Linked DNA regions of Homo sapiens: region 2 is linked to region 1. Evidence: fine-mapped expression QTL. A gene starts in region 1. The other region holds a variant in brackets. All regions are shown on one strand. Distances are from middle to middle. Region 1 holds the start of NUMB (NUMB endocytic adaptor protein). Region 2 overlaps HEATR4 (HEAT repeat containing 4).

Region 1 (16,430 bases):
GGCGGGATGACTCAGCGCAGACCCTTGATGGGGAAATCTGTCTCAGAGGCTGAAAGGAAAGCAACAGAGGGCCACCACTGGCCTTGTTCTTTAATTTAATTTTCATATCAGAAAGACTTCATTGAGTTTGGGGAAATGGAGCTTAATTCTCCCTGTTCCCCAGTGTTGGCAACTCCGAAAAGAATTTCCCAAAGGAATGACCCTGTCCACAGGAGTCCAAGAGAGATGGGCAGTGGGGTTCCAAATTCAGAGTGCGGGGATAGCCCCCCACCTGGAGGAGACCTTTATTTAGTCATACTCCACCACTGTGCTTTTGCCTACTAAATACTATAACCACCGGTGATCATTATGTGATAATTAGCACAGGCCTTTTTTATAACTCCCAGAGCACTACCCCAAAATAAGTGATTGTGTCAGGTGGCAAGGCTACTCCTAGAGACAATTCCTGACTCACTCATTCATTCACTAAATATTTAGTGAACTACTGTGGGCCAGGCCCTATGCTAGGCAGCCATGAGCAGGAAGGTTGTTGTCCCTGGTATTACAGTGCCGACATGTTGCTGGATGGCTAGGCACTGAGCAAGTTTACCCACGGGATATGTGTATCCAAAGTGGAAATGCAGTGTGTATAAGAGGGGCACCCAACTCAATGTGGCTGGGAGAGGGATAACAGGAAGCCTCCCCTATAATAGTAACTTTGAAGATGAGATCTGTAGGAGAGGCAGGAGCTAGCAAATGGAATCCAACTTAGGGTAAACCTATGCTATTTGTATGAGTTCCCCAAAACTTAAAGTTAAACCCAAAGTTGCCTCTTCATATAAACCCTCCAAAGTAACTAATAGGCTATGCCAGCTACAGTGCAGCCAACTCTACTTCCGTACAACGTGATGCTACTTTGGAAAAGTGTGAAATCCTACTTAAGTGGAAGGTGTAATTATTGCAGAGTATTTCAGGGAGGAAGATGGCACCAGGGAAATAGGCATGAAAATCAGGTTCTTCTATTATTTCCACAACCTGGTCTAATTCTCCATGCCCTTGGGATGGCCTGGGTCTGTGATAGGAAATATGTTTTTCTGTCTCTATTTGAGCAACAACATCCTTCTTATCAGCTGCTCCAATGAGGAAGACACTGATGTCCTTTTGCAGGAAACTAACAGGAAAAGAAAGAAAGCTTACCACTAAATACACATCCTGAGGGTGAAATGAAATGACTGCAGTGTAGGAAAGGGCTGAATAAATAAATACACCATTCCTATTGTATAGTCAGACTTCCTGGGGGCGAGTCCTCATCTCTTTACCCTGTCTTTCCCTTCTAAAATCCGCTAACCTGCCAAGGGACCGAACAAAGTTTTCTCTGGCTATTAACAGGTATGGAAACATACAAGTCTCCTCTGTCCCAGACACAGAGGAAACACAGAATAGAGAATAGGAAGGAGAGAAAACCAGAGCCACAGGAAGAGGAACTTGATATTGGTGTACATCTCCCCTTCATGTTTACAGAACTTTCCCAGCAACTTCTGCTTTGAGCCTTTCTGTGTACAAATCTGGTAATGTTTGGGAACATTTCGGGAGAGGAAAGGGCCAGGGCTAGTGCAGCTCAGAAAATCATCCGAACTCTTTAAATCACAGCTGCACAGGTGACTTGATTTAGAGGGAGAGGTGTAAACTGTCATTATCTGTGAATACTGAGCTCTAATCCTGTAGAGCTGCAGTGGAGACTGCTAGAGAAGATGATTCCTGATCTGAAAACAATTCCAGCCTGGAGGATCCTAAGGCATTTCCTTGTAAGGGTAGTTTTCTTCTGTGCGGAAAAGAAATGAAAGAACATGTGCAAATATGGGTGGGAGAAGAAGAAACAGAGACAGAGAGAGAGAGAGACAGATAAGTTGCAAAAACTTGGATCTTTGTATTTCTTTCTTTTCTTTTTCTTTTCTTTTCTTTTCTTTTTTCTTTTTTTTTTTTTTTTTTGAGACAGAGTTTCTTCTTTCTTGTTGCCCAGGCTGGAGTGCAATGGTGCTATCTCGGCTCACCGCAACCTCCGCCTCTCGGGTTTAAGTGATTCTCCTGCCTCAGCCTCCCAAGTAGCTGGGATTACAGGCATGAGCCACCGCACCCGGCCTGGATCTTTGTATTTCTACGGTGTTTTTAGTTTAAGGATCATTTACACTTTAGGAGGTTTTTGTTTTTTCTGTCTTTCTTATGTAATAATTATGGGTGAGCCCTGAGAAATGACTCAAAGCAAAAATAATGGGGTTTTCTTGATTATAGTTCCTCATTTTTCCTGGCCACAGGCCAACCCTCAATATCCTCCACCTTTATAAGGAAGACAGCTTCAACCCAGCCCTAAAGGGTGACTCCAGCCTCTTATGATCTTTCTTTCATGTTGCAAACTGGACTCTCTTCTTCCAACTTTCTAATTGCAAAATTGCTCTTTATTTTTATGGGTTCTTATTACTTCCAACCCAGGTGTGAAAATGTCTTCTTGGACACCCTTATCCCATCTGTAGGGCCTGTGTAGGTCCCTCTTTCTCTCATTCTTAGTTGAGGATTGACTGAGTAGACTGCACAATGATGACCATATTTTAAAAGGGACAAAGGTCACATAGCGAAGTCTCTGTTCATTCTCCCAGGCACAATCCCTTCTGTCTGGATTCTGGTTGGGGCCAGGCTCAGACTTTTGTGCATATAGGAGGTGCTGCCATAATTAGCCCATTTTGCTGGTTTTGTGCATACCCTTCTTGGTATAGGGCAGGCAGGAAATTAGACTGTGTTATGGATTTGGTGGTCATATTTTATGAACCCCAAATCTAGAATTGTGCTCTGGTGAGTATAGGGTGCTAATGGAAAAACTGAACAAAACATATGGAAATAAGGCCACCCTGGAAAAGTAATGAGAGTTCATAGTATTTCCTTCCAGTAGCTTGGAGAGAATATCAAATATCACATGTTTATTAATAATGTTGGTTTTTTTTTTGAGATGGAGTCTCGCTCTGTTGCCCAGACTGGAGTGCAGTGGCGTGATCTCTGCTCACTGCAAGCTCCGCCTCCTGAGTTCATGCCATTCTCCTGCTTCAGCCTTCTGAGTAGCTGGGACAACAGGTGTCCGCCACCATGCCCAATTAATTTTTTTGTATTTGTAGAGATGGGGTTTCACCGTGTTAGCTAGGATGGTCTCGATCTCCTGACCTTGTGATCCGCCCGCCTTGGCCTCCCAAAGTGCTGGGATTACAGGCGTGAGCTACCGTGCCCGGCTATTAATAATGTTAACAATAACTAATGATTATTGAGCATTTACTACATGTCAGGTCCTGAATTATGTATATTATTTCATTTACTCCTCATAAAAGGGTTCCTTCTAGGAGCTAGGGGAGAAAACCAGCCATTATATAGTCAATAATAATATTAATGGTAATAATAGTTATTATATATAACAGTTATATATTACATAACATATGCTGGCCCGAATTGAACATATTCTCTAATTTGATTTTTGAATATTTAAAAATATACACATATATTTGTTTTTTTTTTTTAAGAGATGGAGGAGTCTCACCATGTTGCCCAAGCTGGCCTCAAACCCCTGGCCTCAAGTGAGCCTCCCACCTCAGCCTCCCAAGTAGCTGCCACCATGCAGTCTCTAATTTAAATTTTAAACAAACCCTAGATGTTATTATTATCTTAGAGTAGGCTGCTTCTAAAATAGCTCCCAATGATCCTCTTGCTGGTCTTTACATCCTTGTGTAATCTCCTTGAGTGTGGGCTGGACCTAATGACTTACTTCTAACTCACAGGATGTGGCAACAGTGATGGGATGTCACATCTGTGATTGGATTACGAAAGACTGTGCCTTCTGTTTTGCTATTACTGTCTCTGGTGAGTCCTCTCTCTTGCTCTTGCTTGCTTGCACTGATGAAGTAAGCTGCCACGTTGTGAGATGCTCAACGAAGAGGCCCATGAGGCAGGGCACCGAGGGAGGCTTCTGGCCAACAGCTCCTGGGGAACCAAGGCCTTAGGAAGTGAGTCCTGCCAACAATAACGAGGTGAGTGAGGCAGGAAGCAGATCTGTCCCAACTGAGCTTGAGATGACTGTGGTCTTATAAGAGACCCAATGCCAGAGAGTTGACCCACAGAAACTGAGACGATAAACGTTCTTTTAAGCTACTGAGTTTTGGGGTAATTTGTTATGCAAGACAAGATAGCTAATATGTATCTCATTTTATAGATGAAGAAAATGAAGCTTTAGGGTGATGAATCAATGTTCCCCAAATTACACAGTTGGTAAATGGCAGAGCCAAAGCTTTTGGAACATACTAAGTTCGAGGTTCTAGGGTCTGAGTTTAAGTCTGCTTTCTCATGAGGTTCCAAGTGATTGGGACACTGCAGTTCTGGAAGAATTCTACTCTCTGAAATCCTTGGAGGATAGCCATGTTTCCAGGAAACTCTTTGTGTGCATAAAAACAGAGATGGACAAAAGTTTAAATGGTGCTAAGTGCTTTGAGTCGGTCCACTCCCTGCTGCAGAAGAATGGCTGATCCACCCATAGATCTGGTGATAGTAACCAGGAGCTCCAGTCAATAGCACAATGGCAGAACTCAGAGCTACAGCCCATCCATTTTTACAAGCGCTCAAGCCATATTATGTAAAGCAGGCGGAAGGGGGCATACACTTTTCTTGAGGATGAAAATGAATGCATTTAGTAATGAAAATGCATAGTGTGGTATTTAAAAATTACATGAGCTCTGGAATCAAATAACAAATGGTTCTGCCTGAGAGACCAGAACACCTTCTTTCACTGATTTTTTTTTCCTTCCCATCCCTGAAACAGAGCCTTGAACTTTGAAACCACAGTACCTTGTTCCAGCGTGGAAAGCAGCGTGGCACTTCCCGGTGGTGAAAGCACCCCAGCTTGAAAGGGTGAAAACACCTTCTCCCAGATAGTCTCCCTTTGTTTAGCCAGTGCTTTTGCCTTAAGGAAATCAAATGAAGGTATGCTCCTTGGTTGGCTGCTGAATCTGTCCTTCCTTGTCAGCTTTGCCCAGAGCAGCAGGCTTTGAGCTCTGGGAGGATTTCCAGGTGGCAGCAGAACAACGGTCCCATAGGCTGGAGCCTGGCACGCTTTCCCTTTTAACCAGTGGCAGAGGCTGCACTTTGCTGGTGTAATTATGCAACCTAGTGTAAAGTCCACATGGGTGGGGATAGGGGGTAGGCAAGGCAGGACTGTAAGCTGGCTCAGCACTCTGATTGGGTTTTTTGACTGTTTTTCTAGCTTTTCTTACCCTTTTCTCTCCTGCCCCCTCATCTCCTCCTCTTCCCTCCTTTTCCCTCCCCTTCTCTCTAATCCCTTCATCTTTGTCAGCCTCCACCCTCAGGGATCCCTAACTCAGGAAGCTACCTCTTATCAAATATTTTGGCTTGCCTCCAACTGCTAGTGGCAGGCAGTTCTGGCCCTTGTCTGCTATCTGAGCGATTTTCTTCTCCACCGGTTGTTTATTTCTCTAATCTAGTTGGAATTGGAATCGTGTGTAGAATCCAGAGGAAGAAAATCCAAAAGCAAAAAATGGATCCTTTCCCTAGTGAGATTGCCCCTGTGGGCTAAAATAGAAATGGAAAGAGACTTGGATTCTTTTCCCTTGAAAAGTGACATTATGAAAGAGCAGGAGAAACAGCATTAGTGTACAGGAAAGCCCAAGGCACACTATATCACTCCTCAGATATTGGACATCACTCTGAGTCCTCTATTTTCTGCTTAATTGGGATTATAAATGCTATTTTTGCCCCGAATGTACCTGCCATCTTGGTCGTGCCCAAGTGGCTCTGAACAGATACCATCTGCAGGACCTCCACAGCCAGCCATGCAACAGGAAGCTGCAGACTCCCAGACTCCAGTGTTCTTGTTTTCTGAGAGGGAGCCCTGAGAATGGTAGAGAAGCAAAAAACACAGGAAAGAAAAGAAAAAAGCTGGATGGAGTAATTACATGATAGGGTTACCTTGTGCACGTGAAAGCAAAATGTAGGGATACAAGCAATAACCCCTCCGGTACTGCACAGTCTTTGATAACACAATAGCCTTCTGTTATTTCAAGGCATGTTCCTTGAAACCTTCCTTAAGGTTTTCCCACTACTTACTGGGTTGTAACATATTTATTTTATATGTCCTTTCTTAACTGATATTCACAAAGAATAGGAATGATAGATGTGTGTATATGAGCAAAAGCATTTATACATGCTTTCTTTTTTTTTTTTTTTTTAGTGTATGAAATAGCGGCTGACTTTTGTGACAATTTTCCACCCAGTTTTGTGATAGTAATTTCGCTGCATTCTTCAACTTAGATGGCAAGTCCTCTTAGCAAGGCTGGCCTAATTCTATGTTTTCTATGGCACCTAGTCACTATGGCTGTGCAAGAGCCATTATTACCCAAAGTACCATAATAATGGTCATGTCCTCCTATGACGTTATTGTTTCCTATCTGTCAGGACATTAATTGTCTTCTAACTTGCTCTAAAATTGGTAGCATGGCACACTGCCAAGACTAGAGAGAAGCAAGCTGCTGGTGATATATTAAAAGGCTGTGTAAAAGGACATATTGGTATTTGCTTTTTCTTGGGGCATCTTCACATTTGCATTACTTCACATGTTATGGGATGTTAGCTCAGGCTTGCCTTATGTCTTGGCGTCTATCTTATCATGGTCAATGTCTGATCTTTCCTTCAGCTGAATGATTCAGACATCTCTAAGTTATTTTGGCTTTTCCACTTTCCTTTCACAGGCTTTTTGTGAGTCATTGAATTGAATGGGAGGTTATTTCTAAATTGGAAGGTGAGGAAGAGAGGAGGGGGAGGAAAGTTCCGGAAAATAACTAGGAAAAGGCACTTTATTGTTATGTATAGTTACTGGAGGAATAATTTCTGCTTAGTCTGGTGATAGAAGTATGTACTTTATTTAAACTTGACTAAAAATATAGGCTAGAAAAAAGACAATATTTTTCTGAATAATAAACCATACAGTTTTAGACTCTTTGTAGCTTGCTCTGCAAAGAACAAGGAGGTTAGTAAATAGAAGAAATATGAGACAAAGGGTTAGCAGAAAGAAGAAAGAGACAAAGCACATTTCCAAAGTCCACATCCTTGAGGTGAATGCCTCCTTGACAGTGTCTTTTTTTTTTTTTTTTTTTAAGACAGAGTCTCACTCTGTTGCCCAGGCTGGAGTGCAGTGGCACCATCTGCAGAGACAGGGGTTTCACCATGTTAGTCAGGCTGGTCTCAAACTCCTGACCTCAGGTGATCTGCCCGGCTCGGCCTCCCAGAGTGCTGGGATAACAGGCATGAGCCACCGCACGGCCTGACAGTGTCTTAAACTATCCCTGGGTGTTGTTTCATGGCCCATGGGTATATGTATCATAGGTGGGGTTGTGAGAAAGTACATTTAAATCTGATTTAGAAACTGAAAGAGTAATCAGACCAGCATTTTGTTATTTAGGAGCAGGAAAAGTGGGTGAAAAAAAAGGAAAAACAAAAAGCTAATGATGAATATATTTCTAGGAGCACAAGAGTTTTTATAGCAACATTAGATTTCTCAAAAATGCCTACTGTGATTTGTACCCAAGTGAATAAAAAATGCAATCATTTATTCTTGTGCATTGTGCCAAGTGAGGAAAAAAAAAAAACACACACACACACAACCCGGCAATTCATTCAATGGCCCTAATTTAGACTGCTAGGAAGAGGTTTAGAAAAAAAAAAGAGAGAGAGAGAGAGAAGCTTTTAAAGTATCTGACACACAGCTAGTAGGGCTATTTAAGAACTGCTGAACAGAAAAACAAAGTGGCAGTGAGAGGTGGGGGAAAGCAGAATTCTCATTTCCAGAGCATCATAAAGGGTATAATGTGGCCCGCTTATTAGAAAGTTGCTGGCCGGGCGCGGTGGCTTACGCCTGTAATACCAGCACTTTGGGAGGCCGAGGCGGGCGGATCACCTGAGGTTGGGAGTTCGAGACTAGCCTGACCAACATGGAGAAACCCCGTCTCATGCCTATAATCCCAGCTACTCGGGAGGCTAAGGCAGAAGAATCGCTTGAACCTGGGAGGCGTAGGTTGCGATGAGCCGAGATAGCACCATTGCACTCCAGCCTGGGCAACAAGAGAGAAACTCCGTCTCACAGAAAAAAAAAAAAAAAAAAAAAGTTGCTAATGGCTGTCTGGTCAATTGGCAGGGGTCAGCCAGGAGTGGATCTGGAAGCTGGAGAACTCTCAATACGCCACTTCAGTTTATTGACGACATTTATAATTGCAACCGAAGTTGACTGATTTCTGCTAAATGAAAGTTTGCGCTTTGCCCTTTAGCATTGAGGCTCCTGGAAAGAACTTCAATGAAATTGGATGCATTGAGACCAAAGAAAAGAAGGGGACATTTTTATCTCTCTGATACCTTTCTCCCCAGGGCTTGGAAACACTTCTTAAACACAACCTCTAATGTTGGTGTTTTGTAAGTACTACCCCTATGAATAAAGCTAGCAGAGATAAGCTTCTCCTTGCAGGAAGTGAGCTGGAGAAGTGGAAAAGTTTACAGAGAAAACTCTACAACAAAGACTTAACCCTTCCCGGGTAACCACGAATGTGAGCGTCTGCCCCTCCTTTGCTTTCTACTGCGCAACCAAACTGTGCACAAGCGTGAATCAACCTTAACCGTCACGTCTCTTGCCAGTTAGCTTAACAGACACTTTTAGCAGCCTATCATAACTTCGAATTGCCCAACCCTCAACCAATTACAACTAAAGCTTGGGCTAGGACGCTCCAGGTCCGGGCGGGGGCGAATACCGGGTTTAGGAAAAGGGGCGGTAAAGAGCGATGACGGGCGGGTATACTAAACCAATCAGAGAGGAGAGCTGCCGCCCCACTATCCAATGGATAGGTTAGAAGTATGAAAGAGGGTGGGCCTGTTGTCATGGGGGAGGTGGTGGCGCTTGGTGGCCACTGGCGGCCGAGGTAGAGGCAGTGGCGCTTGAGTTGGTCGGGGGCAGCGGCAGGTGAGTGCCGGTAACGCGGGTCAGAGATCTGGGGGCCGTCGCGGGGCGGAATCTCCAGCTCAGCACTCCGGAGGCGGAGGCCGGAGGAAGGGGGCCTGGACTTCGGGTCGGGGCCCGGGCCGGGGCCGGGGCCAGGGCGGAGGCGGCGGGGGCGGCGGCGAGTTCGCGCTGACTGGGCTAGGGGGAGAGGGGCTGGGCTTCTGGCTGCGGAGTTCTCCCGAGGAAGGTAGGCTACGGCCGGACCCGCGCGGGTCAGGCCAGGAGGTCCCTTGGGACGTCCAGCTGCTCCGGTCTAGCGCGCTGACCGGCGGCCACTGTGTGAGGAGTAGGTATCTGAGGAAACGGAAGCGGCCAGGGTCCCAGAGAGGGGGTGACCTGTAACGACCTGCTTCAAGGGCGGGGTGTCTTGGGAATACCCAGGACGGCTTGGGTGCCAGGGAGAAAAGGAATCCGGGAAGCCCGGCAGCGGCCGGTGAGGAGAGAGCGGGGTGGGGGGCAGGGGAACTGGGAGTGGCCCCGGTCCGAGGGAGGTAGGAAGGCCGAGGGTGGCCAGGGTCCCGGGTGACAGGGAGCAGACTTGCTCCAAGTAGGGGCGTCTGAGGAAACGCTCGGAGGGGGTTGGGGACCCTCCTGAGAAAAGCGGCTGTCCAAGGGAGGGGGCTCCTGGAGAGATGAGGAGCAGCAGGTCTTCGGAGGGTCGGACGAGTAGAGATCTTGCACCGCCTGGGGGAAGAACCGGAGCTCCCTGCGCCCCCATAGCTGAGCTGGGATGGGAGACCCAACTGGCCTGGCCGCTCCGGCTCTGAGGATCCCTAAGGGACCAGGAAAGAAGTCCTCGAGGAGTGGCTCGCGTTTGAGACCGGGGTGAGGAGCCAGCAGGGGAGTGGAAGTTCCCTCGGTCGGAGAGGAGTCATGCAAAATGGGACGGAGATGGGCGGAGGTGGGAGAGAATCCCTATAGGAGGGGATAAGGTAGAGAAAGAAAGTTGCCCGAGGAGAGAGTAATGGTTTCGTGGAACTGGCTAGGACAGTAGATATATGAGAAATTAACAGTGGAGCCATGTAGGTTCACAGGTCTTCACAAATAGAAGAAACTTCAGTTTCGTAATTAATATCAAGATGACATCTAGGACCAAAGCAAAGCTCCTAAAAGCAAGGTTAAGTGACTTGTTTTAGAAAAGAAATTTGTTTTAGGATGATGGCAGTAATATTAGGAAATAGGTTCATTGACAGGGTGGGGAATTTGGGAGGGAAAAGGGGAGGAGTAGCTGAACTAAAGGAGTAGAAGTAAATACTTATCAGAAAGAGGGTAGGCATACTCGGCTAAAGTGAAAAGAAGTTTTGAGTTCTAGTTCCACCACTTAGCTAAGTTTCTGTGCAGTTTCCTCATCAGAATACTAATAGTAATAGTTCCTACTTTATAAGGTGGTGGTGGTGTTTTTTTTTTCATGTGAGTTGGTATTTGTAGAGCTTTTAGGATAGTGACTGGCACATAGTCGTGTGTACTGGATTGTTCAATAGACGATAAAGACCTGACTTCTTAAATAGAAGGTAAAGACCTGGCTCGCAGATGTTAGCTTGCATCAAAATCACCTGGAGGGCTTGGTAAAATGTAGATTGCTTGGCCCCACCTGGGGGTTTCAGTAGGTCTGGGGTGGGGCCCAATAATTTATATTTATCTCAAATGATGATCACGTTGGTCAGAGGACCACACTTTAAGAACCACTTACTTTAATGAAACCGGTAATAATGGTAGCAACTTTAAAATACCTGCTAAAGAGACAGGTAGAGGCAAATTGCCTAAAAGATCCTATTATAAAGGATACTCATTTTTAGCCTGTGTTTTTCAAACTGTGGATTGTGATTTATTAGTAATTTATAAAATCAATGTTGTGAGTTTTTACCTGCATTGAAAATAAAATGTAGAACAGAATAAACTGACATTGCATTTGGTAAGGAAAAGTATTGTTTTGGGAAACTTTTCTCCTACATGTATGTACTAGGTCACAATGTAAAGTGTATTTCTTTTTTTGAGTTCCTGGCCAAAGGATAAAATATATTTCTTACAGTTAAAAAAGTCTGAAAGCTGGGTGCGGTGGCTCACGCCTATAATCCCAGCACTTTGGGAGGCCAAGGCGGGCGGATCACTTGAGGTCAGGAGTTCAAGATCAGCCTGACCAACATGGTGAGACCCCCATCTTTAAAAAAAATACAAAATTAGCTGGGCGTGGTGGCGCGTGCCTGTAATCCCAGCTACTTGGAAGGCTGAGGCTGGAGAATTGCTTGAACCCCGGAGGTGGAGGTTGCAGTGAGCCGAGATCATGCCATTGCATTCCAGTCTGGGCAACAAGAGTGAAACTCCATCTTAAAAAAAAAAAAAAAGGTTTTTTTGGGAGTATTATATTCCATTAAATTTCTTCAGTTTCTGATTTGGTTCCTCCTGTGTTTGTCTTGTCACATATTGTGTTATGCCTCTGACTCTGGAACTTTTTTGGATATTGAGAATCTTTGGCATGAGAACTTAAGGGAATCTGAGGCAGAGAAATTGAATGGTGTTTCTCAGATGTTGTCCGCTTTTGTTTCACTTGTGCCCTCTTGTTCACCCTTTCTTTTTTATCACTGTACCGTAAAGCATTGTTTGTAAAAGCCTGAGTATACACAGACATATTGACAGTAAACAACACTGAAATGGACTGACTTGAGAAAATTTCATGTATAGAAAATAAGCAAAAACAAAGTAAGAAACACTGCAAAAGAGAAAAATGAAAAGATATTTCCTTTTTAGAGAGTAAAAATATTAAGTATTTCTTATCCTTACACTAATATAAAACATATACAGATATTTTTAAAGGAACTAGATATACAGTTTCTAGGTCTTTGTAGAGAAAAGAAATAGTGGTAATATGTGACAGCAAAATGCACCTGGGATAGAGGCTTAACTACAAAGTAAATCATTTATTAAGAGGGAGCTTTTGTTTAATGGTTTTCTCCCTTGAGAATAAACTGGATGTGGTACATGTTGTAAACTTAACTTGTTTGAGGAACCTAAATGTAATTTACAGCGTGTTTTTAAAAAGAATATGTATGTTTTATCTGTACGTGGTTTGATTTTTCTTCCATTGAAAGCTAGATGGTTTATATTTAGGAGTTGATTTAGATCTGTTTTTATGGCTGTTAAGAACAGGAAGCAGTATTGAAAACTGAAAGAGATCCTTGCAGCTTTCTTTAAAATCTTTAATCCAGGGGATTATGTAACCTCTTCATTAATGTTTTATGAAATTGTGAAGAAACTGTTGGTATAGCTTTGCATCAGGATTTTTGGTTTATTTTTTTCTCTCTCAAAAATAATTTTTAGTTTTATTTCAGATTATATTTCCTTAAAATTTTTATTTTCATTTGGAAGACTGCAAGGCATATAACCATTGCATATCTGAGTTCTAAAGCAGATGCAGACTTTTCACAAAATAAATTTACTGCTTTTTTTCTGTGACATAAGTTTCGAGAAGGAAAGCTTTTGATTTCTTGCATTGAGTTCAGTGGATTATTCTTAGCACTAGAGTTGTTGTTGAAGTCATGGTACATTTATATAGATCATTCAGTTCTACACCAAATGATGGAAGAATGAGAAATCCTATATGACAAATAGAAAAGTTCATTCTTCATAATTGAGAACATTGAGCAGTTTGATTACCTGGTTTTAATAAGTGGACTTATTATTCATCTGATTATACTTATCTAGGAATAGCTTTGATTGCCCAAATAATTTTACAGTGGGATTTGGTTGTCTGTAGTTGAATAAATGGTGGTTTTTAAATCCCAAAATCCTAACTGTGCTATTTAGTGAGACTCAGTTTCACATACTGAAGTTTTATTTAGGTAAGTGATTTTAAAAAGTAGAAGTTCAATTAACACTAGTTAATTAGGTTTATTTTCTATTTCAGAGAAGCCTTGTCTTGTTTTATAAGTCTCTGATCTACTTTTCTGCTTCCTGCTCTCCAACTCGCTGTACAATAAATTCTAATAGAAATGTGGGTAACTGAAAATCTAGTTCTCTAAAAGTATAAAACCCCTATATCTAGTTTTTTAGTTTGCTTCGAAACTTCCTAAACTAATTACCTTTAAAAAAGTATTTTATATAATAGAGTACTTGAAAAGCTACATTTTACTTTGGACTTGCCAAAACACATCTGTTGTGTGTAACAGGTTTTGATTTCTAGAGAATAGATCTTGAATTCTGCAGATTTCTGAACTCTGATTTTTTTCCTTTTTTTTTAAAAAAAAATTCAACTTTTAGTTTAGATTCTGAGAGTACATATGCAGGTTGGTTATATGGGTATATTGTGTGATGCTGAGGTTTGAGGTATGATTGGTCCTGTCACCCAGGTAGTGAGCATAGTACCCAATAGTTCTTCAACCGTTCCCCCCCCGCCCAACTTTTTCCCTCCCTCATTTTATGTTTTCCTGATAGGGCTGGGGAGAAATAAAACAATATACTCCTTAAATTAAAAAAAAATTTTTTTGCTATCTTATTTTTTTAATCTTGACATTATAGTGCATCCTTTAGTGGCAAAGAAAATTTGTTTAAGGGGCCGGGTGCGGCGGCTCATGCCTTTAATCCCAGCACTTTGGGAGGCCGAGGCAGACGGATCACGAGGTCAGGAGATCGAGACCATCCTGGCTAACACAGTGAAACCCCATCTCTACTAAAAACACAAAAAATTAGCTGGGCATGGTGGCACGCGACTGTAGTCCCAGCTACTCGGGAGGCTGAGGCAGGAGAATGGCTTGAACCTAGGAGGCGGAGGTTGCAGTGAGCTGAGATCGCGCCACTGCACTCCATCCTGGGCGACAAAGCGAGACTTTGTTTTGAAAAAAAAAAAAAAGGAAAATTTGTTTTAGTAATGTAACATATTATAAATTTTATTATAAGAGGTAGAAATACAATACAGGGCTTTAGGATGTATGTTCAGCTGCAACACACAGGTAGTGATAAATAAGATATCATTAAATACTAGGTACAATATTGCCATATATTTTGGAGATTATTAAACGTGCACTTTGAGGCTAGGCGTGGTGGCTCATGCCTGTAATCCCAGCACTTTGGGAGGCTGAGGCGGGTGGATCACCTGAGGTCAGGAGTTTGAGACCAGCCTGACCAACATGGAGAAATCCCGTCTCTACTAAAAATACAAAATTAGCCGGGCGTGGTGGCACATACCTGTAATCCCAGCTACTCAGGAGGCTGAGGCAGGAGAATCACTTGAACCCAGGAGGCGGAGGTTACAGTGAGCCAATAGCACGCCATTGTACTCCAGCCTGGGCAACAAGAGAGAAACTCCGTCTCAAACAAAACAAAACAAAACAAAAAGAAACCATAAAAAAAAGTGCACTTCGAAATCTTGAGGCAAAAGGAGGATTGAAATGAAGGGAGAATAAGGAGAATACTGACGTGCTTAAGGGAGGAGTCTGGAGGATCTACAGGAAGTGTATCTAGAGGAATGAGTGGTTCTTGGCAGTTTTCCTGGAGTGACATATGTAAAGGAGGATGATTCTATTTGCAACATTCTCCTATGGACTTATTTTTCATTCTCTGCAGTTTCTGCTGCTTGTTATTACTCTTCCTTTGTTTTCTTCCCCTCAAGAAAGCATGTCAGAAGACAAGTAAGTAGACTGAGAAGTGGTAGTCCTAGAGGATGAGAGCCTTGGAAGGACCATGTGGATTTAGAAGAAGGCTCTTCTTATCTCTGCTTCTGCAGCTCTTGGGAGGTCCCCAGCAACCTTAACTAGACCAACCTTTCCCACTTGTCCTCTCCAGTGGAGTATGGGATTAGGAAGAGACCCCCAGTCATCTTAAATGCATTAACCAAGGAGTTGCTATATTAGTAATTAACGTTCAGTGACTTCCCCCTCTCTACCCACGAAAACCCTGTTTCTCCCCACTTGTTTGCTGATAAGTTACGTTCCTTTTTTTTGAGACGGTGTCTTGCTCTTTTGACGTGGAGGGAGTATGCAGTGGCATGATCTCGGCTCACTGCAGCCTCAACATTCTGGGCTCAGGTGATCCTTCTGCCTCAGCCTCTCCAGTTGCTGGGACTACAGGCTGCCCAGTTTTGTTTTGTTTTGTTTTGTTTTTGAGACAGAGTTTCGTTCTCGTTGCCCAGGCTGGAGTACAATGGCACAATTTTAGCTCACCGCAACCTCCACTTCCTGGGTTCAGGTGATTCTCCTGCCTCATCCTCCCTAGTAGCTGGGATTACAGGTGTGCACTACCACACCCCGCTAATTTTTGCATTTTTAGTAGAGATGAGGTTTCACCATTTTGGTCAGGCTGGTCTTGAACTCCTGGTCTCAGGTGATCCATCCACCCTGGCCTCCCAAAGTTCTGGGATTCCAGGCGTGAGCCACCACGCCTGGCCAGTTTTTTTTTTGGGGGGTAGAGACAGGGTCTTGTTAAACTCCTAAACTCAGGCAGTCCTCCCAAAGTGTTGGGATTACAGGCATGAGCTACCGTGCTCAGGCTATCTTACGTTCTTTTAACCAAGATCAAAGTCTTCAATTACCTGAGTAGGACAGCAAAATCTTAATTATGGTAACTTGATTATATTAAGGTGAATTATAGTTAATTTGGAACATTTCTAGTTTAATTAGGGAAGAAGAGGGAAAAACTGTAGAATACTGCTTAGCTCTGAATAAAGGCAAAGCTGGGGCAACCAGGGACACAGAAATCAGCTAAATTTGTAACTTTATTTAAGATTGGCCTTGGTTACCTTTGACTTTGGAAAAGTAATAGTGATACTTTCGTCTAGTCACTTGTGCATATGTACATCTCAGGTACATTTTGATTTTATCATGTAGATAATTTGTGAAGGTTTATTTACTTAATTTATTTTATTTAAAGATGCCCAGGCTGGAGTGCAGTGGCACAATCTCGGCTCACTGAAATCTCCACCTCCCAGGTTCAAGCAATTGTCCTGCGTCAGGCTACCGAGTAGCTGGGACTACAGGGGCATGCCACTATGCCTGGCTAATTTTTGTTGTAGGTTTTTTTTTTTTTTTTTTAGACGGTGTCTCCTCTGTTGCCCAGGCTGGAGTGCAGTGGCTCAATCTTGGCTCACTGCAACCTCCGCCTTGTGGGTTCAAGTAATTCTCCTGCTTTAGCCTCCCGAATAGCTGGGACTACAGGCACACGCCACCACACCTGGCTAGTTTTTTGTATTTTTAGTAGAGATGGGGTTTCACCATATTGGCCAGGCTGGTATTGAACTCCTGACCTCGTGATCTGCCTGCCTCAGCCTCCCGAAGTGTAGATTTGTTTTTTGTTTTTTTTTTTTTTTTTTTTTGAGACAGAGTCCTGCTCTGTCGCCCAGGATAGAGTGCAATGGTGCAATCTTGGCTTACTGCAACCTCCG
Region 2 (11,380 bases), 25 kb before region 1:
TCCTTGGATGTCCTCATTTCTAAACAGGATGTTCCACCGGCAGGTTCCCACCAAAAAGTGCAGAATTCTTCTTTTCAAGGAATGCCCCCAGGCAGTTTGAGTTCCGCAGAAACTTCTGCTCTGCAGATGAATTCACTGATTGAAGCCTTATCTAGGAGTTCCTCCACCTAACTTCTCTCCCTCTTTTCTCCAATACAAATTCTCAAATTCATTGTCCTCTCTCTGAAAAATAAGTTAAGAATTTCTCTACTTGCATTCTTGATATCTGCCCTTCCTGCCCCTCTGGGATTTTGTTTCTTTAGCTACAACTTCTTTGGCTCTTAAACTCAGGATCTTAAATCGGCTTCTAATTTAACAGGCAATGTGGTGGCATGCGGGTGTAATTTTTGAGAACGTGGTCACTGTCTGTCATGCAACTAATTGCTTTGTACATAAAGATTCCTTGTCTTCATTTGAATCATTTAAGATAAACTCCCAGAAATAAAAGTGCTGGGTCAAAAAGTAAGATACTTTTTGTGATTATTAATAGGTTTTACCAAACTGCCTTCCAAGAGGGTTTACAATGTTTCAAGCAATGATAAGCATATTAGACTACAGTACATGGCCTCTAGGACCTTTCTCTGTTTGAGCTTTCAACACTCCCTCTTTCTCAGTTGCAAGCCTATCCAAACACTTGCCAAGGCTTTTAGATTTTGTCCTTACCCATGTCTAACATCCACCCTTTTTTATTTCTCACATGGTCTGTTACACACACAGTTATCAACTGGGGGTGATATTGTCTCCATAGGGACATTTGGCAATGTCATATAGGGGGCTAGGGGTTGTCTAACATCTAGTAAACAGACACTAGAGACACTACTAAACATTCTACAATACTAAGGACAACCCTCCCACAACAAATAATTGTCTGATGCAAAATGTCAGTAGTGTAGTGTTGAGGCAGACAAATCCTGGTTTATTACAAATAGCCTCCCAACTAGTCTCTTTACCTTTATTTTTTATTTTTATTTTATTTTTTTGAGACAGGGTCTTGCTGTGTTACCCCAACCTCTGTGTTGCAATGGCCCAATCTTGGCTCACTGCAACCTCCACCTCCCAGGTTCAAGCGATTCTCCTGCCTCAGCCTCCCAGGTAGCTGGGATTACAGGCACCTGCTACCACCGAAGCTAATTTTTGTATTTTTAGTAGAGACAGGGTTTCACCATGTTGGTCAGGCTGGTCTCGAATTCCTGACCTCAGGTGATCCACCTATCTCGGCCTCCCAAAGTGCTGGGATTACAGGCATGAGCCGCGGTGCCCGACTGTCTCTTTACCATTAATTGCTCCTGTATTAGCCATTCTCACATTGCTATAAAGAACTACCTGAGACTGAGTAATTTATAAAGAAAAGAGGTTTAATTGGCTCACAGTTCCTCAGGCTGTAGAGGAAGCATGGTTGGGGAGGCCTAAAGAAACTTAAAATCATGGTGGAAGGTGAAGGGGAAGCAAGCTCATGCCTGTAATCCCAGCACTTCAGGAGGCCAAGGTGGGTGGATCATGAGGTCAGGAGATCAAGACCATCCTGGCTAGCACAGTGAAACCCCATCTCTACTAAAAATACAAAAAATTAGCCGGGCATAGTGGCACGCCCCTGTCATCCCAGCTACTCTGGAGGCTGAGGCAGGAGAATTGCATGAACCCGGGAAGTGGAGGTCGCAGTGAGTCAAGATCACGCTACTGCACTCCAGCCTGGGCGACACAGCGAGACTCCGTCTCAAACAAAAGCAACCAGATCTTGTGAGAACTCAACCACCATCATGAGAGCAGCAAGGGGGAAATCTGCCCCCATGATCTAATCACCTCCCACCAGGTCCCTCATCTAACATTGGAGATTACAATTCAACATGAGATTTGGGTGGGGACACAGAGCCAAACCTTATCAGCCCCCATGCCAATTTATACCACAGATAGCTACAAGATGAATTTTCTCAAGTTGAGGCCCCAAACCTGTCATCACCCTACTCAAAATCTACCTAGGTGCCCCATTGACAAATCCAAGTTCCTCAGCTAGGTACTGGAGTCACATAATGTTACAGCCTATCATCCCCAACCCCTGTAAACTCTACTTCTACAAGCTAGACTGTTTGCTGTTGCTTACCTATATCATCCTTTATATGTTTTCTCAGGCTGTTTCCTCTGCATATTGTCCCCCAATTATCTTTTGTCAAAACCCTAATTAAAGCCCATTTCACATTCCATCTCCTCTCCAAAGGCGCTACCATCTCCTTCATCTCAAGAGAATTTTGACTCTTTCACATGAATTTAACACATTGTGCTGGTAATTCATGTTCTTGTCACATTCCTTCCTAAAATTCAAGGAAAAGACTTCCTTATGCCTTTTTCTATCCCGTCTTGCATTTAGCACACTGCCCTGGGATTACAAGCATGAGCCACCATGCCCTGCTAAAAATATAGGCTTTGTTTGTTTGTTTGTTTTGAGATAGAGTCTTGCTCTGTCATCCAGGCTGGAGTGCAGTGGTGCTATCTTGGCCCACTACAACCTCTGCCTCCCAGATTCAAGCAATTTTCTCCTGCCTCAGCCTCCCGAGTAGCTGGGATTACAGGCACCCCCTACCATGCCCAACTAATTTTTGTATTTTTAGTAGAGATGGGGTTTCCCATGTTGGCCAGGCTGGTCTCAAACTCCTGACCTCAGGTGATCTGCCTGCCTCAGCCTCCCAAAGTGCTGGGATTACAGGCGCGAGCCACTGTGCCCAGCCAAAATATAGTATTTTTTAAACAATAAACTTTACTTTCCCTAATTCATCTCATTTTTCTTGATTTTTAAGCATTGCTTACCTTTCTCTTCTTTTTTTTTTTGTTTTGAATCAATAGAATTCCCTTTTAAAAAAATCAAAGGAAATTGACATTCTTTTTTTAATTATTATTATTATTATTTTTAGTACAGACGGGGTTTCACCATGTTAGCCAGGATGGTCTCCATCTCCTGACCTCATGATCTGCCCGCCTTGGCCTCCCAAAGTGCTGGGATTACAGGCGTGAGCCATCGCGCTGGGCCAGGAACTTGACATTCTGAATATAGATGCTAATCATTGTTATTCAGAGAAACTTCTACAGAAAAGAAGATGAATAGAGCCAACAGGATGTTTAAGTGTACATAGTATGATTTAAAGCCTATCAGGAAAGTACCCCAAATTATCTCTCCCATCAAAATTCATCCCATCATTAGATAGTTATTCTTGAATTAGTCATTGTCACTTTCACTTCATCTATATCTAAAGTGTAAATATACTGGGAAGGAAGGGTGATATATACTAAATTATAAGTTCCTTTCTTTTTTTTTTTCAAGACAGAGTCTCACTCTGTTGCCCAGGCTGGAGTGCAATGGCACGATCTCGGCTCACTGCAATCTCCGCCTCCTGGGTTCAAGCAATTCTCCTGTCTCCACCTCCCAAGTAGCTGGGATTACAGGCGCAGGCCACCACACCCGGCTAATTTTTGTATTTTCACTAGAGACGGGGTTTCGCCATGTTGGTCAAGCTGGTCTTGAACTCCTGGACTCAGGCAAGCCACCTGCCTCAGTCTCCCAAAGTGCTGGAATTACGGGCGTGAGCCACCACACCCAGCCTCATAAGTTCTTTTCTTTAAGAAGGAAGGATAGCATGAGTTGTTGAAAGGGAGATGGTGAGAAAGAGAAATAAAAGGAAAGTAAAAGAAAGCAAATGTCCGAGGCAGTGGTTCTGAACCTGGGGCTATTTTGCACCCCCAGGGGTCATTTAGCAATATCTAGAGATATTTTTGGTTGTCCAACAGTGGGGGTGCTACTAGCATTGAGGGATGCTGTAAAACATTCTACAATGTACAATGAAACCCCATAACCAAGGAGTATCTGGGCCCAAATGTCAATAGTACCAGGATTGAGAAACCCTGGTAAAAACTTTTAGATGACAATTCATCAATACAAAATTTTGATATCTTTGACCCAGTAGTAATTCTACATCTAGAAATCTATCCTTAAAAAATATTCACTGGCCAGGTGCAGTGGCTAACACCGATAATCCCAACACTTTGGTAGGCTGAGGCAGGTGGATTGCTTGAACTCAAGAGTTCCAGACCAGCCTGAGCAACATGGTGAGACGCTGTTGCTATGAAAAATCAGCATTTTTTTTTTTTTTGAGACAGAGTCTTGCTTTGTCACCTAGCCTGAAATGCAGTGGCGTGATCTTGGCTCACTGCAACCTCCACCTGCCAGGTTCAAGCGATTCTTGTGCCTCACCTGAGTAGCTTGGATTACAGGCATGTGCCACGATGCCCAACTAATTTTTGTATTTTTAGTTGAGATGGAGTTTTGCCATGTTGGCCAGGCTGGTCTTGAACTCCTTGCCCTAAGTGATCCAACTGCCTTGGCCTCCCAAAGTGCTGGGATTACAGGAATGAGCTGCCATGCCAAGCCGAAAAATTTTAAATACAAAAATTAGCCAGGCATGGTGATGTACACCTGTGGTCCCAGCTACTAGGGAGGCTAAGGTGGGAGGATGGCTTGAGCCTGGGATGCAGAGGTTGCAGTGAGCTGAGATGGCGCCACTGCACTCCAGCCTGGGCAATAGAGCCAAACCCTGTCTCGAAAAAAAAAAAAAAAATTCACCCATGTGTACAAAGATATTTACACATAGATGGTTGTTGCTTTTAATTTCAAAACTGGAAATTACTCAAATATCTACCAATCAATAGTTATTTAAAGGAATGACAAGGAAATGTCTATAACGTGTTAAAAAATCAAATTATAGAACAATATGTTGTCCCATTTTTTGCTTAAAAAATGCAGCCAATATACATTATATATAATTTTCTTTTCTTTTCTTTATTCTTTTTTCTTTTTTGAGACAGAGTTTCCCTCTGTCACCCAGGCTGGAGTGCAGTGGTGCAATCTCGGCTCACTGCATCCTCCACCTCCCAGGTTCAAGCGATTCTCCTGCTTCAGCCTCCCAAGTAGTTGGGATTACAGGCGCTTGCCACCATGCCCAGCCAATTTTTCTATTTTTAGTAGTGACAAGGTTTCACCATATTGGCTAAGCTGGTCTCAAACTGCTGACCTCAGGTGATCCACCTGCCTCAGCCTTCCAAAGTGCTGGGATTACAGGCATGAGCCTACATTATGTAAAATTTATTTAAAACCATATATGTGTGTGTGTGTGTGTGTGTGTGTGTGTCTGTGTGTGTGTGTGTGTGTGTCTGCCTGCATAGTTGAATATCTGGAAAGATATAAACCAAACTGAAGACAGAAAGAAGTTCCCTCTGGGCAATGGGATTATTTGTTATAGAAGAATTTTCATGTTTAACTTTAGGATGTTAATATAAAGTTTAGGCTGGGTGTGGTGGCTCATGCCTGTAATCCCAGCACTTTGGGAGGCTGAGGCGGGAGGATCACTTGGGGCCAGGAGTTCGAGACCAGCCTGGCCAACATAGTGAAACCCCGTCTCTACTAAAAAATACAAAAATTAGCCGGGTGTGGTGGCATGTGCCTATAATCCCAGCTACTCAGGTGGCTGAGGCACCAGAATTGCTTGAATGCGGGAGACAGAGGTTGCAGTGAGCCAGGATCGCGCCACTGCACTCCAGCCTGGGCAACAGGGCAAGACTCCCTCTCAATGACAAACAAACAAACAAACAAAAAACCACAGTTTGAATAGGCCATCTGGCCCCAAAAGCCTGAAATATCTACTATCTGGCCTTTTACAGAACAAATTGGCTGAGTCTTGCTATACGTCGTAACAGATGCTATCTAGGATGTTGAATTTCCAACTCTTTTGCTTGCTCATATAACCTATAAAATAATTTTGAAAAATGATGTCACCTCTTTACCTTCTTAAATTGACATCTAAAATGAGGCCAGGCATGATGGCTCACGCCTGCAATCCCAGCACTTTGGGAGGCAGAGGCAAGTGGATCACCTGAGGTCGGGAGTTTGAGACCAGCCTGGCCAACATGGTAAAACCCCGTCTCTACTGAAAATAAAGAAAAATTAGCCAGGTATGGTGGTGCATGCCTGTAATCCCAGCTACTCGGGAGGCTGAGACAGGATAATCGCTTGAACCTGAGAGGCGGAGGTTGCAGTGAGCCTGAGATTGAGCCACTGTACTACAGCCTGGGTGACAGAGATGAGACTCCGTCTCAAAAAAAAAAAATTGACATCTAAAATGTTTTCATTTTAAATAGAAGCAGAGTTTAATTTCAAACATGTAAGTATTCCAGCTTTACATATTGATATTTTAAGTTCAAAACTGAATTTAAATGCATCCATTTGAATCTAAATGCCATAACAGTTTGATAACTACCATCATCCATTTTAAAAATAAAATATGTAAGCTCTTCTTTAAAATTAAAATTACATCTTAAAAAAAAACGCTCACATTTCCTTTATGAAGTAACTTCCACACAGAATTTTATCCTAATATACAATTGTGCTTGAAAGTATTTATTTTTCATCATCACATCTGCAACAAAAATCTGTATTTAAATTGAGGGTTGGGGCATGATGGTACACGTAGTTTTAGCTACATGTGAGGCCAGAGACAGGAGGATCACTTGAGCCCAGGAGTTCAAGTTTATAGTGAGCTATGATCGTGCCTGTGAATAGGTACTAGCTCCTGCACTCTGGCAGCTGGGGCAACATAGTAAGACCAGGTCTCTAAAAAACAAACAAACAAATAAAAAACACCTGATGTAAAAAATGAAGGTTTTAAAATTTATTCTCCATGACTAGAAGACTGTCTATATTTCTTTCAGGTAATCATTACAATTATTATTAGTATACTTCATGTTCCAATTTTCCATACATAAATCAGAAATATTAACCCACACTCCCCTGGGAAACAATTTTATTAACTAGAGTACAGTGCTATGTGCAATTCCTGTTGTATTTAGTCTTATAGATTCCACACATTTC[C/T]GAAGTTTTTCCTACTCCCTTCACTGAAGTTGCTCTATACATTTGGTTCTCTTGCTACATGCAGTCCGTATTCCTTCCTAGATCCCCTTACTTCCTAAATGTTTTTGTTTTAATTTGCATACATTAACGTTTACTCTGGCTGGGTGGGGTGCCTCATGCCTGCAATCCCAGCACTTTGGGAGGCTGAGATGGGTGGATCACCTGAGGGCCAGGAGTTCCAGACCAGCCTGGCCAACATGGTGAAACCCCCATCTCTACTAAAAATACAAAAACTAACTGGGCATGGTGGTGTGTGCCTGTAATCTCAGCTACTTGGGTGGCTGAGGCATTTAAAAGAAGCTTGAATTTGGAAGGCGGAGGTTATGGTGAGCCGAGATTGCACCATTGCACTCCAGCCTGGGTGACAAGAGTGAAACTCTGTCTCAAAAAATAAGGTTCACTCTTCTTGCTGTAAAGTTCTACAGGTTTTAACAAATGAATAATGTCATGTAACCATCATATATTATACAGAATATTCAGAATAGTTTCACCACCTTAAAAAGTCTCCTGTGCTTCCCTTTTTTTGTTTGAGATGGAGTCTCGAAGTCTGGCTGTGTCGCCCAGACTGGAGTGCAGTGGCGCAGTCTCGGCCCATTGCAGCCTCCGCCTTCTGGGTTCAAGTAATTCTCCTGCCTCAGCCTCCTGAGTAGCTAGGATTACAATCGCCTGCCACCATGCCTGGTTAATTTTTGAATTTTTAGTAGAGACAGAGTTTCACCACATTGGCCAGGCTGGTCTTGAACTTCTGACCTCAGGTGATCTGCCCGCCTCAGGCTTCCAAAGTGCTGGGGTTACAGGTGTGAGCCACTGTGCCCGGCCTAATTTTTGTATTTTTAGTAGAGACTGGGTTTCACCATGTTGGCCAGGCTGGTCTCAAACTCTTGGCCTCAAGTCATCTGCCTGCGTGGGCCTCCTAAAGTGCTGGGATTACAGGCGTGAGCCAGTGTGCCCGGCCTGTGCTTCACTTATTCAACCCTCCTTTCCTCCCCACAAATACCTGTCAACCACTGATTTTTCTTTTTTCCTCTCCTTTTTTTGTTTTGTTTTTGTTTTTTATTTTGAGACAGGGTCTCCTCCTGTTGCCTAAGCTGGAGTTGCAGTGGTATGATCATGGCTCACTGCAGCCTCAACTGCCCCTGCTCAAGTGATCCTCCCACCTCAGCCTCCCGAGTAGCTGGACAACTACTGATGTTTTTATTTTTTTATTTTTTTTTGAGATGGAGTCTCGCTCTGTCACCCAGGCTGGAGTGCAGTGGCACGATCTTGGCTCACTGCAAGCTCCGCCTCCCAGGTTCACGCCATTCTCCTGCCTCAGCCTCCCGAGTAGCTGGGACTACAGGTGCCCGCCACCATGCCCGGCTAATTTTTTTTTTGTATTTTTAGTAGAGACGGGGTTTCACCTTGTTAGCCAGGATGGTCTCGATCTCCTGACCTCGTGATCCGCCCGCGTCGGCCTCCCAAAGTGCTTGGGATTACAGGCATGAGCCACCATGCCCGGCCTTTTTTTACTATCTCTATAGCTTTGTCTTTTACACAATGTCATATAATTGGAATTATACAGTATGTTGCCTTTTCCGGCTGCCTTCTTTCACCTAGCAATACATATCTTTTTTTTTCTTTGAGACACAGTCTCACTTTGTTGCCCAGGTTGAAGTGCAGTGGCACCATCTCACCTCACTGCAATATCTCACTCCCGGGTTCAAGTGATTCTCGTGCCTCAGCCTCCCAAGTAGCTGGGATTACAGGCGTGCACCGCCACCCCCCGCTAATTTTTGTATTTTTAGTAAAGATGGGGTTTCACCATGTTGGCCAAGCTGGTCTCAAACTCCTGACCTCAAGTGATCTGCCTGCCTCGGCCTCCCAAATTGCTGGGATTACAGGCGTCAGCCAACCTCCTGGCAGCAATACACATTTGAAGAGGTTCATGTCTCTACTAAAATAATTAACTCTACTAGTTCTGTCTCTACTAAAATAATTAAAATAATGCATGTCTTTTTCTGGCTTCACAGCTCATTTCTTTCTTTCTTTCTTTCTTTTTTTTTTGAGATGGAGTCTTGCTCTGCTGCCCAGGCTGGAGTGCAGTGGTGTGTTCTCGGCTCACTGCAACCTCTGACCCCCGGGTTCAATCGATTCTTCTGCCTCAGCCTCCTAAGTAGTGGAAATACAGGCACATGCCACCACGCCCAGGTAATTTTTGTATTTTTACAAGAGACAGGGTTTCACCATGTTAGTCAGGCTGGTCTCGAACTCCTGACCTTGTGATCCGCCTGCCTTGGCCTCCCAAAGTGCTGAGATTACAAGTATGAGCCACCGCGCCAGGCATCGTTTCTTTTTACCTCTGAATACTCTTCCATTGTGTAGGTGCACCAGTTTGTTCATTCACTTCTTGAAAGACATCTTGGTTGCTTCTAGTTTTGGGTGATTATAATAAAGCTTCTACAAACATTCATGTACAGGTCAGACTTACTTTGTATCATGACTTCATTTTTTATTTCACATACAATATTCAAAAAACATAATAAAATATTAAAAATAAATATAACAAATATAAGAATAAATCTTGAAAATTAAAATTAAAATAATATGGTCCATTATAATTGATTAATCTTTTTTTATTTTGAGACAAAGTCTCTCTCTGTCGCCCAGGCTAGAGTACAGTGGCGCAATCTTGGCTCACTGCAACCTCTGCCTCCTGGTTCAAGCGATTCTTCTGCCTCAGCCTCCCGAGTAGCTGAGATTACAGGCATCTGCGCCATGCCTGGCTAATTTTTGTATTTTTAGTAGAGATGGGGTTTCACCATGTTGGCCAGGCTGGTCTTGAACTCCCGACCTCAAGTGAGCTGCCTGCCTTGGCCTCCCAAAGTGCTGGGATCACAGGTGTGAGCCACCGTGCCCAGCCAATTATTCATTTTTTAAGAAATGAAAAACAAGATAAATAATACATTGGTTTTATTACTTAACTAGTAATAACGCCATATAATGTATAGCTGAAATTATAACTTATTAGTGAAGTAAAGAATATTATAAGAGATATTGTGTTCCTTCTACAAATGTGTGAGTGAACATATATCGAACTCTGGTGTTAGGCTTTTATTTTTATTTTTTAATGGGCAGCTTTTCAAGCCAGAGTAGGCTGAGAGAGACTACCCTGGTGTTAGGCTTTTGAGATTAATTAAAGAATAATCTCTGGGCATGGTGGCTCACGCCTGTAATCTCAGCACTTTGGGAGGCTGAGGCAGGCAGATCATGAGGTCAGGAGTTCAAGACCAGCCTGGCCAACATGGTGAAACCCTGTCTCTACTAAAAATACAAAAAAATTAGCTGGGCGTGGCCGGGAGCGGAGGCTCATGCCTGTAATCCCAGCACTTTGGGAGGCCGAGGCCGGCGGATCACCTGAGTTCGAGACCAGCCTGGCCAACATGGAGAAACGCTGTCTCTACTAAAAATACAAAATTAGTAGGGTGTGGTGGCGCATGCCTGTAATCCCAGCTACTTGGGAGGCTGAGGCAGGAGAATCCCTTGAACTCTGGGGGCAGAGGTTGCGGTGAGCCGAGATCGCACCATTGCACCCCAGCCTGGGCAACAAGAGCGAAACTCCGTCTCAAAAAAAAAAAAAAAAGAAAGAAAGAAAGAAAGAAAAAAAAACGCCGGGCGCAGTGGCTGACACCGTAATCCCAGCACTTTGGGAGGCCGAGGCGGGCTGGTCACAAGGTCAGGAGATTGAGACCCTCCTGGCTAACACGGTGAAACCTCGTCTCTACTAAAAATACAAAAAATTAGCTGGGCGTGGTGGTGGGCGCCTGTAGTCCCAGCTACTCGGGAGGCTGAGGCAGGAGAATGGCGTGAACCCGGGAGGCGGAGCTGGCAGTGAGCCGAGATGGCGCCACTGCACTCCAGCCTGGGAGAGAGTGTGAGACTCCGTCTCAAAAAAAACAAACAAACAAACAAAAAAATTAGCTGGGCGTGGTGGCGGGCGCCTGTAATCCCAGCTGCTTCAGAGGCTGAGGCAAGAGAATCACTTGAACCCGGGAGTCGGAGATTGCAGTAAGCCGAGATTGCGCCACTGAACTCCAGCCTGGGCGACAGAGTGGGACTCCGTCTCAAAAAGAAAAAAAAAAAGGAGACACCCTATAGCCAAAGAGGCCTTCACTTGGGCTCTGCCGCTCACATGAGACACGTTTGGCATATGCACTCATGTTTTCATGTTTCTCTGCAGCCTGTGAAGCCCCGCGCACCAAATCCCTGGTTACAAAGTTCAGTCCCAGGCCTAACCACACGAAGCAAAGTTCGTTCATCACTTGTCAAAGATCTACGCACCTCCCCCGAGAAAAGGATTGCTGTGGGACCATTTAGATCCGACTACCCAGCTCTTTATCTGGGTAAATTCTCAGAGAG

What was found. PIP is the estimated chance that this variant, and not a neighbour inherited with it, causes the effect. A credible set is the group of variants that fine-mapping cannot tell apart.
Region 2: its variant is the best candidate, but not a certain one, in a credible set for the expression of NUMB in whole blood (INTERVAL, PIP 0.74).

What each region holds. Positions count from the first base shown.
Region 1 is chr14:73,451,085-73,467,514 of GRCh38, reverse strand. NUMB (NUMB endocytic adaptor protein) reads left to right here and starts at 8,969. Exons shown (of 13, transcript NM_001005743.2): 1 at 8,969-9,022. LOC101928143 (a long non-coding RNA gene) reads left to right here and starts at 3,873. Exons shown (of 3, transcript NR_135251.1): 1 at 3,873-4,040; 2 at 4,826-4,986; 3 at 6,251-6,580. RefSeq lists enhancers at 2,345-2,574, 3,835-3,924, 7,573-8,106, 8,107-8,640, 15,254-15,313 and silencers at 8,626-8,825, 9,016-9,105, 9,116-9,245.
Region 2 is chr14:73,478,664-73,490,043 of GRCh38, reverse strand. It overlaps HEATR4 (HEAT repeat containing 4), which reads left to right. Exons shown (of 18, transcript NM_001220484.1): 18 at 11,202-11,380. Among named protein-coding and RNA genes, the nearest start is that of RIOX1, 6.6 kb to the left of the region's middle. RefSeq lists an enhancer at 1-31. The variant C/T (reference allele first, on the strand shown) is at 6,947.